Regions from separate parts of the Homo sapiens genome. Here region 2 is linked to region 1. The links come from fine-mapping of genetic effects on gene expression. Tissue or cell type: thyroid. Region 1 holds a variant in brackets; the other region holds the start of a gene. All regions are shown on one strand. Distances are between the middles of the regions.

Evidence for each region. PIP is the estimated chance that this variant, and not a neighbour inherited with it, causes the effect.
Region 2: SLC35F4 starts here. The variant in region 1 is fine-mapped to the expression of SLC35F4 in thyroid (GTEx, PIP above 0.99).

What each region holds. Positions count from the first base shown.
Region 1 is chr14:57,829,686-57,837,805 of GRCh38, reverse strand. All of the region lies in intron 1 of SLC35F4 (solute carrier family 35 member F4), which reads left to right. It also overlaps the pseudogene RN7SKP99. Among named protein-coding and RNA genes, the nearest start is that of SLC35F4, 32 kb to the left of the region's middle. The variant T/C (reference allele first, on the strand shown) is at 3,521.
Region 2 is chr14:57,861,961-57,870,080 of GRCh38, reverse strand. SLC35F4 (solute carrier family 35 member F4) reads left to right here and starts at 3,989. Exons shown (of 8, transcript NM_001306087.2): 1 at 3,989-4,358. The coding sequence starts at 4,256.

The DNA of each region.
Region 1 (8,120 bases):
AATTGGTAATTTATTCACAGAAAAGAGTGCTTATGAGGAAGGACGCTCTAGAACCTGGCACAAAAGCCCCTTTCTAGGGAAGATTGGCTTTGGAGAAGTGGGGGGTATCTTGGGTGACAGTGATGGTTCAAGAAATGATGGTATGATATGTGACGGTCATCAGGATGTGACATCAGTCACCTCATTGATAGCAAGGTTCTATTCAGCCGGGTTGGCTAGGTTAAGTCCCCTTCCTCTCCTATACGCACGTGTGGTCCCTATCCCAGAAGCTGTGAGATTGGTCAAAGCAAGTGGTCTTTCCAATTGGAGGAGGTCTACCCTTGGTCAAAGGCATGCGAGTCTGTATGCTCCCCTATTGGAGCACTAGGAGAACTACAGTATTTGAGCCAAACAAACTTTCAAGAAATTTGAAAGTGGCTCAGTAAGTTGTGGGACATACAGGTTGTCCGTTTCTCCATCATACCTCCCTTCTGCTCTTTTCGCTGCTAGAAAAATTCTTCGCAATTAGGAATTCCATCAAGCCCTAAATTCTTTGATGATTCCCTGTAACAGTGTCTCTTGAAGTGTGGGACAGATATTCCTGGTTAAATGCAAGATTTAGGTGGTACTCAGACATGGTGTTAAATAATTTTAAATTACACAGTGAAAAATTTATTTCATTTTAAGTTCCCTTTCAATCCTTCTCCTTCTGACAATGAGGATGTATAAGTGGAAGACCAGTGTAACATTTTCTAATCTCAGTTTTTAGTAAGGAGAAGAGCCTTCAAGCTAAGTGTTCCAATTACAAGCATATCATGCCATAATGTTAATAACATTTTCTTTTAAAAATTTGTGGCAAATTATTTCAGTTTTTAATATATGACAGTGATGTAAAATTTTAATGTTCTGGATGTAAGATGATATTTAGGAATTGTTATTAATTTTTTTAGGTGTGATGATGGCGTTATAGTCATTATCCTTTACAGATACAAATTATATATAGATGGAAAGATATAATGTCTGTGATCTGCTTAAAGTAATTCAGGAAGGGTGTGCTTGTGTGTGTGCTGATGGAGGTGGAGGTAGCGGTGGTGCTTAGGGGAGTACAAAGGAAACAAGATTGGTCATGGGCTGATATTTGCTGTGCTGAGTACATGTAGATTAATTATACTATTGTCTCTATTGTGTATATTTCAAAGTTTTCATAAGGAAATGTTTGAGTTAAAATAAAATTTCAGGCCGGCGCAGTGGCTCACACCTGTAATCCCAGCACTTTGGGAGGCTGAGGCAGGCGGATCACGAGCTTAGGAGATCGAGACCCTCTTGGTCAACATGGTGAAACCCCGTTTCTACTAAAAATACAAAAATTAGCTGGATGTGATGGCGCATGCCTGTAGTCCCAGCTACTCGGGAGGCTGAGGCAGGAGAATCACTTGAACCAGGGAGTCGGAGGTTGCAGTGAGCTGAGATCGCGCCACTGCACTCCAGCCTGGTGACAGCGAGACTCCATCTCAAATCAATCAATCAATCAATCAATAAAATAAAAAATAAAATTTCAATGTTAAATAAGTTGATTAATATGGAACAATAAGTGAGTTCAGAGAAAAACTATTAAGCAAATAAGAATAATATGGGTGGTATGTAGGTAAGTCATTAGTTAAACTACTGAAGTCTGCAAAACACTGGCTGCTGGAAAACATTCAAGCTTCTCATTGAGAAATCAAAGGTCCTTCCTGCTACAGGCCTTTCTCACCTCCTTTCTTGCCACTTTGGATTGCAATAATACCAGGTCACCGGTAGTTCCTAGTGTGCCATCCTCTCACAACCTGCATCTTGATGCAGATGGTTCTGTTTCTTGGAATGTTTCCCAAATGTGTTGTTTAGAAAATTCCTGCATTCTTTAACTCTCAGCCCAAACAATGGAAATTAAAAGAAAGGAACATTCTGAGAACTCTGAAAGAGCTGAAATCATTTGGAGACTAGACATGGCTTGATGCCAGAATAAGAAGGAGCCAAGGGTAACACTTAGGTTTTAACATGGCAACTTTGACAGACTAGCGAGGCTGGAAGGAGAGAGGTGTTCGTGGGTGATCAGTGCTAAATTAAATTTTAGGCATGTTGAGTTTGGCCTGTCCTCCAGGACTCCAAATTATTACTAGCAGCAGAAACTGGGCAGGGGTCATTCCTCTCCAGCCAACTCTTGAGTCCTCAGTAATTACATGACAGAAATGTTATAGAGTCCTTTTGCTCCTCTTTCTCTTTCTTGTCAGTCACATTTTGCGTATTGTTCTGCTGACAATGAGAAAGAGCAAAAGAAGGGAGAGGATGTGAAAAGCAAATCAGTCATTTGTTGCTTTTTAGGAGTGTTGAGAAAGTCTTGGGGGTTGGGAGAGTTAGAAACTGTTGATTTATGCAAATTTTTCCATTATGACTGACTTCTGATTATATTTCCCATCCACTGTTTTATCTGACTTCCAATTGTTGAGAAGTAGCTGTATTAATGTGGCTTCACCACAGCTTGTGAACTGCAAGGACTCACTGGAGACATACTATAGGACCTACTTGGACTCTGTATCCTTCCAAATGAGTTGGTGTCTGGTGAGGAGGAACAATATGATTACAGGATCTGAAGGAGATGGGAGGGGCCCTTTTCTTCAAGCACGGGTTGCCCCATGGGCACAGTGAATAACACTGGTTCTATTTTCATGTTTCTGTGGCAAACAGCAACTTCTGTATTGGTCTGTTAATACTTCAACCATTCTAGTTTGGTTATTTTTGTTTTGTTTTGTTTTGTTTTTGAGACAGAGTCTCCCTCTGTTACCCAGGCTGGAGTGCAGTGGTGCGATCTCGGCCCACTGCAATCTCTGCCTTCTGGGTTCAAGCAATTCTCCTGCCTCAGCCTCCTGAGTAGCTGAGATTACAGGCATGCACCACCATACCTAGTTAATTTTTGTAGTTTTAGTAGAGATGGGGTTTCGCCATGCTGGCCATGCTGGCCATGCTGGTCTCGAACTCCTGACCTCAGGTGATCCGCCTACCTCGGCCTCCTAAAGTGTTAGGATTACAGGCATGAGCCACTGTGCCCGGCCTATTTTGGTTCTCTGAGAAGCAATTTTTATACTGACATGCTGGATAGGAAGGATTTGATCTAAAAATAACATTGTTCTTTCATCATACTGGGACTTCCATTAAGTGAATGACGGTTTAGTTATACCATTGTCCTTTCTAACACCTGTCCTAATATCTCCCCTCCCTTCACTGGCAACAGAAATTAGGTACCAGTTCTACTGAGATGTTTTGCAATTGTCATCATTTTACTTTGTAAGCAAAAAGCATGTTTTTCTTTGTATTTCAAACTAAGGAATGCATGATTACCACTTTGGACCTCCTTGTGAGCATAAGATTTTACACTATTTGCACTGTAATAATTTATGACATTTTTATAGCTTACTGTTAGGGCTTGTACAAAGTAGAAGGAATGAATCTGTAGAGAAAAAAGAAAAAAATGAACACACCAATGTGCTGTAGTTATTCAGTGAAG[T/C]GCAAAATCTTGCAGGAGTTAGTTTTGTTTGAAACAGATTTTACTTCTCAGTACCCACTCTTTCTCAATTTTTACCAACTCAGTCCTTTTGGTGTTGACATTTTGTACTCTGGAGTTTTAAGATGTCATGCTTCATGACTTGTTCTCTGGGAAAGTGTTTCTTCTTGAAATGTCGGGTTGCTCTCATCTTAGGTGGAGTTTGGGGTCAGCCTTTGTTATTATTTTAATTTATAGACTTTTAATAATGAGGGTTGTTTCATTTGTGTTTCACTTAATTCAGCACAAGGTTTTGTAAATAGCCTCAGATTTATTTTAACATGTGAAGAGAGGGAACAAAAAGATTCCTATGGTAAAATTAAACATTTTCTCAAATTGAGGCTGTTGCTTGGTTTCTGTTCTTGTTAACGTGCATTTAAAAAATTATTTTCTGTGAAGCTAGTCTTCATAAAGGTGATTTGTGAATATATGAAAATGCAAGAGATGCACTAAAGTTGCAGTCTCCATGGTATATTTAAATATGCCAACAGCTACCCTAATGAGCAAATTTAGCATTTATCCAAATTGGAAAGCCAACGGGAGATTAGCTATGGCCATGGCTGGAGTCTGTATTCAAATATTCATTTGATATTGGTTGTAACTCCGGTGTATCCTCCTGATGTTGTGGATAGATTTATGCCTGTCAATTGAGGAGAGCATTTCTCACTCTCTGATATGCATCTGAGTCACCCAGGGGAGGTTTTTTGAAGTGAATGTCTCCCAGGCCTTGAGCCCCAGAGATTCTGAGTCAGTCATTCTGGGACAGAGCCCAGTCTTCTGTGTTTTGATTCATCAGAATCACCTGGGGAGCTTTTACAACATACCGATGGCTGGGCTCTATCCCAAAACACTGACTCAGATCCTCTGGGGGTGCAAAGCCTGGGTAATCTGTACTGATTTTCAGAAAAGAATGAAAATACCAAAATTATCTAGCAGAGATGGTCCTTTACAAGCATCATTTAATGTCACAGGATGTGCAGAGCTAGGGATAGGGTTAAGGTAATCTCATTAGGGACCGTGAAAGAATATGAGAATTCTGTCTGTCTTTAGTGAGATTGCCTTGCGATTAGATGATAACAAGGATGATGATGGTGACAATGACAACAACGTGACAGTAAGCTTTATACCAGTCATGCTTTTACTAGCTCTAAATAGAGAACTTTTGTTCTTGTTCTTTATGCATATGTGATTTTAGTTTGCCTAATTAATGTTATTTCAGGGACACCTGCTCTCGTGTTCCTACAATATTTATCATTAAAGAAATGAACAAATTCTCTAGCAATTATGAGGACTTGGAAAGAATAAAAGTACCCTGGGTCGTGTTGGCTAGGCTGACAGAAAATAATACCTGAAATATTTCACCACGTTTTCTCAAGGGCAAATTTACTGTAATGTGAAAAAATTTTTTATCAGTGAGTGTAATTTTACACATGAATTACAGTTCCAGCATTCTATTTTCAATTGCTATGTTTACTGCATCAGAAATGTATAGGGAATTTGTGTTCTCTTTTCCCTCATCTCATTTGTAGAGCCAGAACATGCAAAAATTGGAGTTGGTAAAAGTATTGTGCTAGGAAGATCAGGACTTTAGTTATCATTCTCTGTTTATTGTTTCTAATAAATTGTATTGTATATATTTGAGGTTTACAACACAATGTTATGGGATACATATAGATAGTAAAATAGTCCTGTCATAAAGCAAATTAACATGTCTATCATCTCACATAGTTACTTCTTTTTGTAACAAGAAAAGCTAAAATTTATTTATTAACAAAAATACAATATAATTTTCTTAACTATAGTCCTCATGTCATACATGAGATTCTAGGCTTGTTCATCCTACATATTCTTCTTCTATGTATTAATCTGTGACTTTGGACAAGCTACTTAAAGTCTTAGGGTCTTATTTTCCTCATGTATAAAGTGTTAATAATTTATCTGAAGGCAGGTGACTAGAGCAGTTAAACTCTTGAAGCCCATTCTGCTGCAAGTTCCTGTACTGAGTCTGCGGAAGGCAGAGGTGTGGCTAAGGCAACGTCAAGTGATGTGGGGTGGGCCGGGAGGGAGGGGCTTCAGAGCTCAGGAAGGCTGTATGTGCCTCCTAGCGTCCTTCAACCCTGGCCAACTTCTCCAATCTTGCTCCTGGTTGCTATGGTTTTTCCACATCTTCTGGTTTGTAGATTCATGAATTTATTAAATAATACGTGATAAAGCCTCAGTGGGACTCCTGAGTCATTTGTGAGGGATTAAAGACAATTTTACAGAGTTCTTTGCTGGCTTGGAGAGTTGCAGTGCTCAAAAACATGACTTGTGAAGACACGGATATACACTTATGATTAGGAAGCATTTTAGTAAAACATTCATGACTATTTCCTGCATTTCTATGGAAAAATAAATTCAATCACAGTAGGGTTTTTCACTTCATTGCTTATTAGAATGCATTCTTCTGCCTGGATAATATAAAGATAAAGTTAATGTTTCTTCTGTTTTGCAAAGGTGTTATTGGACCCACAAATATGCTCTGGTCTCTCAAGGAGAAAAAAGCTCCAAGGTTTTCACTCTTTAAATTACTGAAATAAAGGGAAATGATTACATGGTAATATTCCCTCTTGCTGCTTGAGAATTCCACAGAAAACAATAACACAGGATAGATTATTTACTGTGGCAGTTTGTGAAACATAGATTGCTGCTGTACTGCAAATTCTGCTTATCTCTTAAGAGCTGTCTGTACTGGGTGGCTTTAGTTTGTCCCTCCAGATTCACGCTTGGCCCTTCTCCACCCTCCTCTGTCCTGGGAGGCTATGCTGTATGCCTGCGTCTATCACTGTCTTGGTCAGCTTGGGCTGCTATCACAAAATACCAAAGATTCTGTGGCTTAAACATTGACATTTATTTCTCACAGTTCTGGAGGCTGGGAAGTCTAAGATCAAGGTGCCAACAAACTCTGTGTCTAGTGAGGGCCCTCTTTCCGGCTTGCAGAGGCTGCCTTCTCACTATATTCTCACATGGCAGGGAGAGAAAGATATTAGAGATACTGTGGAAGGAGAATGGTAGAACTTGGCATCTGTAAGAAGTCAGGAAAGGAATGGGAGGAATCGAAAATCACCTCCCTGCTCTGCTGGCCTGAGTGATTGGTGCAGAGTAATGGTGTAGAAACAGAAATGGGAACACAGTGAAGAAATCAGAGTTGAGAGAGAAGATGATAAATTCTGACAGAGCATGCATACCATGTCCCACCAGCATTCAAGAGCAGGGATGCATTCTATTTCATTTTTGCACCCCCAGTGCTTCAAATAAGTGCTGGTGTTCTCTATACAAGTGCTGTTGAACTTGCTCCACAGGTAGTCTGTGCAGAAATGGGCACTGTGTTCAGTTAGGGTGAATTTCTGATAAATTGGCTCTGGGTTTTTGATTTTGGGGTCACAGAGAAAGTGTAAAAAGAGTGTGTGATTCTTTGTCTTGCAACACCTCCAGCCATGGTCTGTTTTTGTAACCAGTGACAGCTTCCCTCCTCATAGATAAAGTTGGTATTTTACAGAATATATCAGGCATATACCATTTTCCCATTGAAGGTAGGTGGTCTGAAACTGAGATCTGAGCAGAGCCATCCAGAACCATATTGGCTCATTTAATTATGAGATTTTAAGTTATAGGCTTCATAAGTGAGTTTCCAATCACTTTGCTCTTTAAATTTTCAATCTTTCTCATGCTAGACTTCAGGTTTTCTAAGAAATATCTTTTAGGATTTCCATAGCATAACATAAAATTGGGTTGTAACTTCATATTTGGGGCATATTCTAAGTTACTCTTAGACTGTAAGAAGTATTTCTCTTGTCCGAAGCTAGGGAGATCCAAATAAAAATCTCCTCGGATATTATAAAGGAAGTGGTAGTTAACATACATTATTTCATTTAATCCTCACAGTGACTCAATGAGGTGGCATTACACCACATTTTCTCCGTTTTACAGATCACGAAACCAAGGATTACAGAGATTGATCAATTTGACCAAAACCACACAGTTGAAATGTTACAAAGCTGAAAAAAAGGCAACATATGTGAAGAGGAAATAATGCTACATAAACACTTTCTTTTGGAGTAGTATTTCTAGATTTTACTTCCATTACTTTTTTTTTGTAGGTAGCAGACAATGTATTGGAATATTTTTGTAAAGTTAAAAATTATATACTTTTTTCTACTCTTCAAAATTAAAACTGTAGAGGAATGGAAATAAGTTTTATTCTTGCTTATACACTCTCTTCTCTTTTCATTCCAATTTGCATTTAACTGCAAGATTATTCTTCCTGCTGTGTTTTTTCCATAAAGTCACTCTCCTGTTAAAAAACCATGAGTGATTTCCCATTGCTTATAAAATACAATTCAACTCCCCTATCTGGAGATTCTCAAATTTTTTCTTTTTTATATTCACGGCCTTCTTTGAAATATTGGAATTTTTATCTGCATGCCTGAAGGGATTAAAAGACTCAGAATCACACACAACCAGCCAGTGATCACTACCCACAACCCCTGTTGCAGTAGCGATTGGTCTCACAGCACCCAGGAAA
Region 2 (8,120 bases), 32 kb before region 1:
CTTAAGACTTTCTCCAAAGAGGTTCAGTGCCTTTCCAAAGAGTTGAGCCTCAAAATTAGTCCTGGGATGCAGCCTGGCACCTGAGGCCAATGAAGAGTGGACTCTGCCCTGTCTTCTCATACAGACACCCAGCCCCTTTGAGCTGAAAGGTAAATTAGCAATGTCTGCCATTGCCTACTATTGAAACAGAAAGGCTGTGTCAGCATTCCAAATGGGGTGGCTGATGACTTGGCAGTTAAATACTCAAAACAACTTCCCTGAAAATGGAATATTAAGAGCATGCTTTTTCTTTCTCAGGTGCCATTTCTTATCACCTGGTTGGCTAGAAGCCAGATGCTTTTAAACACTAACACTGTTTAAATTTCTTGGGGTCAACTCTTTGTAAACAGTGCTGGTGTTTGTACAAAGTAACATTGGCCCTTGACTATAAAAGCTTAAAGATTCTTGGCTTTCCAAGCAGCCAAGTTACTTTTAGCCCAAGGAGATAGGTAAAATATACTAATTTCCCAGAGGGGAAAAAGATCATTTCCCCTTCTTTCAGCATCTTTCAGTGGTAACTTCAAATAGGTGAATAGAAAGATTAGGTGTCTTATTCCTGCCATAAAAAGACGACTAAAGCCCAGATTTTCTGATCCCTTTCTGCTAATTAAAGTACAGAAGACTAGATTCCATGGATTTTATTTTACTAACCCTTCCAAAGTGTATAGACTGATATGGTATTTTCAGACTGCTTATCTTTGAATAAAATTTATACCCAGTGATCATATTTAGTTTTAATGTTATTACTTGGTATAGCTATTCTAGCATCAGACACAAGGACTGTAAGTGATCATCCCATGAACTACTTTACAAATGATTTGGCTTTTTTTAAAAAAAAAAAAAACCACAACACGTGAATACCTAATTGTATACTCAATTAGTATAAATAGCTAATCTGATTTGATCAGATGATCAAAATCCATATGGCTCATATATCAAAACTCATCTGGGATCACAGATAGATACCCTCTGCTTGATGCATTAAAAAATTCCTGAAGAGCGCACAAAAAACAAATTTTGTTTTATAACAAATCGAATTATAATTTACAACTACTAGAGAAACTGGCTATGTGAAGGGCTATCATGATAAACTATTTTATGAATCAAATAATGACCTTCAATCTTCATTTATTAAGTTGTGTCTTTTCTTTATTCTTTCAGAATAGATTTGAGGCATACATTGCAACTCATAGTTTGTAAATTTGAATATTTGGGTTTGTGAAAACTGGTAGACTAAACATGCAAACATAAAAATGCTTTAAAAGTTATCCTTCCTTCCGCCGGGCACGGTGGCTCATGCCTGTAGTCCCAGCACTTTGGTGAATCACCTGAGGTCAGGAGTTCGAGACCAGTCTGGCCAACATGGTGAAACCCCATCTCTACTAAAAATACAAAAAAATTAGCTGGGCGTGGTGTCGGGTGCCTGTAGTCCTAATTACTCCGGAGGCTGAGGCATGAGAATCACTTGAACCCGGGAGGCGGAGGTTGCAGTGAGCCGAGATTGCACCATTGCACTCCAGCCTGGGTGACAGAGTGAGACTTTGTCTCAAAAAAAAAAAAAAATTATCCTTTCTTCAAAATAATTTCTGTAAATTGTTAATAACGTCTAAAATGACTATTGAAAGATTAAAACATCTTTTATCATATATGCCAAGAGTGTTCATGACTAGCAGAAATTTACCTTTGACTGTTTATCAATTTATAATTGTAGGATTTCAGTTCCTTCCATTAAAAGTGTGGCCTAGATTATAGCACTTGCTGGCATTTACTATTTTGGTCATCCTATTACAGATGATTATAGAGAGATTTGTAAGTGCTTTGCTATTTTAAAATTTATTTCCAGGTCAGTCTGAAAATTTTTACTTTTTCAAAAGAAAACATAGACTCTTGCGGGTATGTTTACATTGTAGTATTTAAATTTATGCTGAATTTACTGTTTATATGAATGATCAGATCCAGTTAAATACATTTTTATCTACTTCTATGGAGATTTATGAAAATAAAGCAAAAGCAGGAAGAAGGTAATGACTTACACGGTAATTGTTATTTATAATTTAAGTACATTAATTATGGCAAGATAAGTTATAAGCAATGGGAAAAACCACTTGTTTTTAAGTCTGCATATGTGTGTGTGTATGTATGTGTATACATATATATTCCTGTTACATCAGAAGGTTTTTGCTTGAATTGTTTCCTAATTTCTCTCTTACTGATATATATATTAATGTGCTATGGATTATGATGGCTATTATCAAAATATATAATATATGTAATATTGGAAAATTTATCTTTCATAGAAACTTCAAACAAAAGTGACATTTAAAATTATATGTGATGAACACATTTTACCATGTGCAATACATGCATTTGATATAATTTTGCCACAGAAATAATAAAACTAACAAAAGTGTGCTGAATATTATTTCACGTGGGGGGGGGTGTAAAGGCATAACGCTTTCATTTTTGCTTTATATGGCTAGCTCCCCATCACTGCACTAGTGTTGGTTTTTCCTTTTAGTTCCTTTTGACCTTTTAGCTCTTTCCACCCTTCCATCTTTCCTAGCCCAGAAAACAGGTGTAGGAGGAAATTGGTTTCTTTATGAACTCTCCTTCCAGCCACAATAATCTCAGATTGACTCCACTCTCAAGATCCCGTGCTAAGCTTTGTGTTTGGATGAAAACCCAAAACATATTGTAAAATTTAATATTGCGTTTTCATATGCTTAAACCTAATTTACCTTTTAGAAAAAAAATTTGCATATTTCTTCCTTCTTAAGGGCCCACACACAATGTGGAAAATGCTTGGAGGCAGGATGGTGTGATAGGTTCTCTGGAGGTTTCTGAGAGGGGCATTGAAGTCGACTTTTGTTTCTCTTTTTTTCTTCTCCCTAAGCTTTAGTAATATGAAACCTGGCAGGGATGTCTTAAGCCAGCTCTGCACGGAAGGTGGACCTAAATTGCCTCTAAGCTGATGAGCTGACCCTCCCCTCCACTAACCCTCCACCTCCACCTTTTCATTTCTGAGATGAAACTTTGAAAATTATTATTATTATTATTATTATTATTATTATTATTATTATTATTTGCAGGAAGCTGTGTCTGCAGACTATGAACAGAGGAATCGTCTCCACTGCTCACTGACCCTAACCCATTGGGTCTCTGGCTAAAGCAGAAGAGTCCCACACCTGAGGGGAGGGTGTTCGCTCTGAACACACAGCTTCAAGGATGTTCTGCTCTAATGGAAAGGCTCTAGACTGTAGCTAAGACTTTCACTCGTCCAGATATTTACAGTTTGAAGGACTTCCCTCCTGATATTTTTGGCAATAAAGGAGAAAATCATTTCTCCTCAGAGCATTTGAAATTGGAAAAATAAACGTGCTGTGTGCAGCTGAATCTTCTAAGCCTTTGACATTTTTCAGTGGCAGGATGGAGGGTCCGTATGGACAGTCAGACTTGAGCGCTTGAACACTTACAGTCTTTGCGTCTGCAAAACCTGGATAATCACTCCATATACCACCTGCCGGGAACTAATTTTCTTGTCATTTCATAAAAAAAGATTCCCAGTCTTCTAGACAAGTTGCAAGGACTGACTAACGCGGGGGAATGCTTGCATATCAGCAGACCAGAGGTGGTGTAGACGCCAAGCGTGGACCGAGTCCCGGGGCGCCCCAGAAGTGTCTTCTCCCCGAGCGACAGAGTTAATGCCTCGCATTAACAGCTATGAGTCCCTCTTGGGTTTCTCCCACTCCCAACACCCTTCTCTGAGCCCCTGGCCACCGTCGCCTTCTCCTCTCGCGCCCCACTGACCAAACATCCCTTTCATCAGGTGGGGTTGGGGTGTCTAGTTTTCGGGAAGGATCGCGCAAGGGTTAATGATGAAAGCTGGCGACCAGGTGGGGCGCCCACACCCGCCCCCGGCCACGGTGGGCGTCGGAGGTGAGGGGGCGCTATTCGGGCAGCAGTGCTCCGGGTGGCGCGCGGGAGAGCTGCCAGGCTGACGGAGAGGCCGGCCCGAGTGGGGGCCGCTCCGCCGCCGCCGCCGCCGCCGCCGCTGTGATGCGGAGCCGGTGCTGCGCCGGGCGGTGGAGTCAGAGCCCGGGCGCGGGAGCAGGAGCTGCAAGATCAGCACCAGCGGCTCCGGCACCTGCACCAGCTCCCGGGCCCCGCGCTGCGCTCTCCGCCCCGCCGCACTCGGGGCCGTCGCCCCGCGCTCTCTATGGATGTCAAGGCGGCCCCCAACGGGGTGGCCACTATCGAGGACCGGATCCTGCGGATCACCGGCTACTATGGCTATTATCCAGGTTACTCCAGCCAGAAAAGTAAGACGCCGCGCGGCTGCCCTGCGCGAGGCGGGGAAGGGAGGTGGGCGCGCAGGGGTGCCGCGGGGATGCGGACGGGCGGGCGCGCGGTACGGACACCTGCAGCCCTGCGGACGCTGTCAACACCGCCTTCCTGGCGGCGGGGACCCCCCGGGGAGAAAAGTATGTCCGCTGTCCTCGGTGCTGAACCGTGAGAGGGCAAGGGGCCCGGCTGGGTGCGCCCAGGAGTTTGGAAACAGTCGTAGCCTTGGGGGGAGGTGCGGAGGGGACCTGGTGAGCGCTCCTGACCGCCGTTGGCCGGCTCACCCTGGTGGATTTACGCCCGGAGGAGGCTAACATGGCTGTTCACTTAGCGGAAAGTCAGCCCTAGGGGATACATGCCCCGAAAGCCCCTACTGCGTGCGGGGCGCTGGGGACGCAGGCTGGGGAGGCTCGGGGGTGGGGCTGGCGGGGGCGGCCGACCCAGACGTGGGTCCCGGCGCTGGTGGGGTCAGCTCGTTCACTCCGGGCTGTTGAGACGCTGCCAGCGCGGGAGTTACTCCGGTTACAGTATCTTTAGGAGGTTCTTCACCCTGGGAAGAGAAAAGAACCTGCTCAGGTCTCCGAGCCCCAGAGCTTGGAGCCAGAGACCCGTGCAAAAGACTGGGGGCGTGGGGGGGGGGGGTCTGAGAAGGGGAGGCGACAGGGCCACCCGCCCCCGCCGCACGTCGCGGTCACCGCTTTCTTCCAGCTAAGCGAGGTCATGCGGCGTGGATGCTTTCACGTTTTTGGACCAGTTTTGGTGGGAGGGCGATGAGGTGTGCTCTGCTCGCAGTCCCCCTCCCCCAGTACACAAACCCACTAGCTATATTTGCTGGGATTAGTTCTACTGGCGACTGAAGTGCAGCTCATTTTTCTTCGAATTGGAGGAGTAGCTGCGGTTTAGTTTCTATGCAGGTGGGCTTTCGCTTTTTTCTTTATCAATGCATTTCTGTTGCAACAGATGAAGCTTAATTGATGTTTTTGCCGTTATTGTTGTCAGAAGCTTGGAAGCTCCTAGATGCATTTCTGATACGTATTTTTCTATGACATTTGGGGTGCAATCAACATTACAGTTTCTGTGATGCGTGGGACCCACAAAAATTCCGGCACAAAGACAAGAAAACACTATTTTTTCATGTAACTTTCTCCCCTACCATGCTTCCTCTCTATTGAATAATAATTCAAGAGCTTTGTTCCATGGGCTGTTCTCACACAGATATTTTCTAGTTCGATATTTCATCTGGTTTCAGGAAAGGCCTATCTGATTTGGATGGTTTCTGTCTAGCTGTTTTTAGCATTAGGGGCTTAAATTATTCATTTTCCATACAAAAGTAATTATATAGTGTTAGAATTTTCTGGAAAGAAAATAACACACTGTGGAATGCCCTTTGAAGTACTATACACTCAAAAACTTCTCCTTTTTTATTGGCAAAGGATTTCTTTTTTAACCCTGGAAACATAAGTAAAGGAACTAATATATCTTGTGGAAATTACTTGACTTTCACCTTTGAATATTTTAATTAGGAACCATGGGATTTTAGTGGCTTAGAGAATGTAGAAGCTGTGTGTGAAATTACAAGACTCAGGGTGGTTTATTATTGTAATTTTTATGACAATGGAACTTTGGCTAACAATGAACAACCCAAAAAGAATACTGAAAAAGTGACATTTTAGATAAGAACATGTTCATATTATATTTTTGTACTTGCTCAAATAGCTGCACATGCTTCATTTGCAACACAATAACAGGACAAAAAAAGGGAAGAGCACTGGCCAAGGCTATAACTGGTAGCCAAAAGGGATAAAGATTAACTTGGCATGGTTATTTGTGATGGGCACTTACCTACCTAAGTTCAGACCGTAGAGTTAAAAGAGTGAAGGCAGAGAATCTCACAAGAAGAGAGAATTAAGTGATAGTCAGATAAATCTCAGGATGCTCATGCTTTCGGAAGTAGAGAAAGATTGCTATTTTGCACAGTGAGAGATTGAGAGAGGAGAAAGCTGGAGGAGGGCCAGGGAACCGAGCACCATGAAATAATCCTGTCCTAATGCAGGCTTCAACTAGTAAACAAACACACTGAAGCAAACCAGTACAATATGGTCAATTGATTTGGCTGTTACAGGGAATGAGCAACAGCTTAGGGGAAGTCTGGAAAAATATACTTAAGAAAAGGCTACAGTGATGAATATATAATATGTGAAAGCAAGGTGACTTTCTCATTTCCTGTCTGATCACATATGAAGGACAATCTCTAGATATCTATGCCATTTACCTTTTTGGAGATAGACGGGGACTTACCTCTAAGAAAATGCACTGAAGATCAAGCCTTCTGTTAATGCATCCTGCTGTTTGCTTGTACCTTGTTCAGAAAAAATTCTAGTAGTCAGGCTGATGCAAAAAAAGAAACATGATAGAATTCAGATAAATGAAGGTACTTTAATGGGCAATAGGGCATTTGTTTTATTTATCCTGTTCAATTAATGAACAGTTATTGAGTAAATATAAATAAGAAATCTGGATACAAAGATGATTAAAGGTGGGTGCAGTGGCTCATGTCTGTAATCCTAGCACTTTGGGAGGCCAAGGCAGGAGGATTGCTTGAGGCCGGGAGTTCAAGACCAACTTGACCAATGTAGTGAGACACTGTTTCTATATTTATTTAAACATTTTTTTTAAAAAAGATGATTAATGCATAGTGTGGTTACTTAGGTAGGGAATAGATTCATTCATTCAACAAGTGTTAATTGAGCACCTCCTATGTGTCAGGAGTACACCAATGAGCAAAACAGACAAAAGTATTTTCCTTTTAAGAACTTAAGTTCTAGTGGGAGCAAACAAGACAATAAAGAAATAAACAAGTACATAAATTATTTAGTATGTTTCAAGGTGATAAGTGCCTTTTGAAAAATTACAACAGGATAAAAAGGATAAAATATTCTGGGGGTAGAAATTATCACAATTTTAAATAGGCTCATCAGGGAAGTCCTCACTGAGGAAGTAACAATTCAGCAAAGACCTGAAGGATATGAGGGAGTTAGCCATATGGACATCCAGAAGAACACATTCTGGGCAGTGGGAATAGCTAGCGCAAAGATCTGAGGTAGAGTACAACTAGCATGCTGGAGAAACAGCAGGGAGGCCTGTATGGCTGAAGTGGAGTGAACAATTGGGAAAGTGGTTGGAGATGAGGTCACTGAGGATCCAGGAGTGCAGATAAAGGAGGGCCTTAGAGGTCATTGTCAATCCTTTGGCTTGTATTCTGAATGAAATGAGCATTTGAAGAGTTTTGGGAGAAGAGTGATGTGACTTATCTTACACAAAGATCAGTCTCACTGCTGTACTGGGACAGGGTGAAAACACCTAATTAGTATGTTATTGTGATAACGTAGGTGAGACATGATGGTGGCTTGAACCAGAGTTGTAGCACTAGAAGAAGAGAAAGGTGGTCAGAGTCTGCATATATTTGAAATTAGAGCCAATAGGGTACCCTGATAGATTGGATATGGTATCTGTAAGAAAGATAGGAGTAAAAAATGACTGCATCTTTTCTGGTTTGACTAAGTTTGAGTTGCCATCAGCTGAAGTGTGGAAGGTTTCAAGGTAGAGAAACTTTGGAAAGGGGTGGGGGGTGGATTGTCAGGGGATAAGGATAACGTTTTAGAGATACTAAATGTAATTGGAGATGTAGAGTAAGCTTAGAGTTCAGAGTAGATGTCTGATTGGAGATATAAATTAAGGAT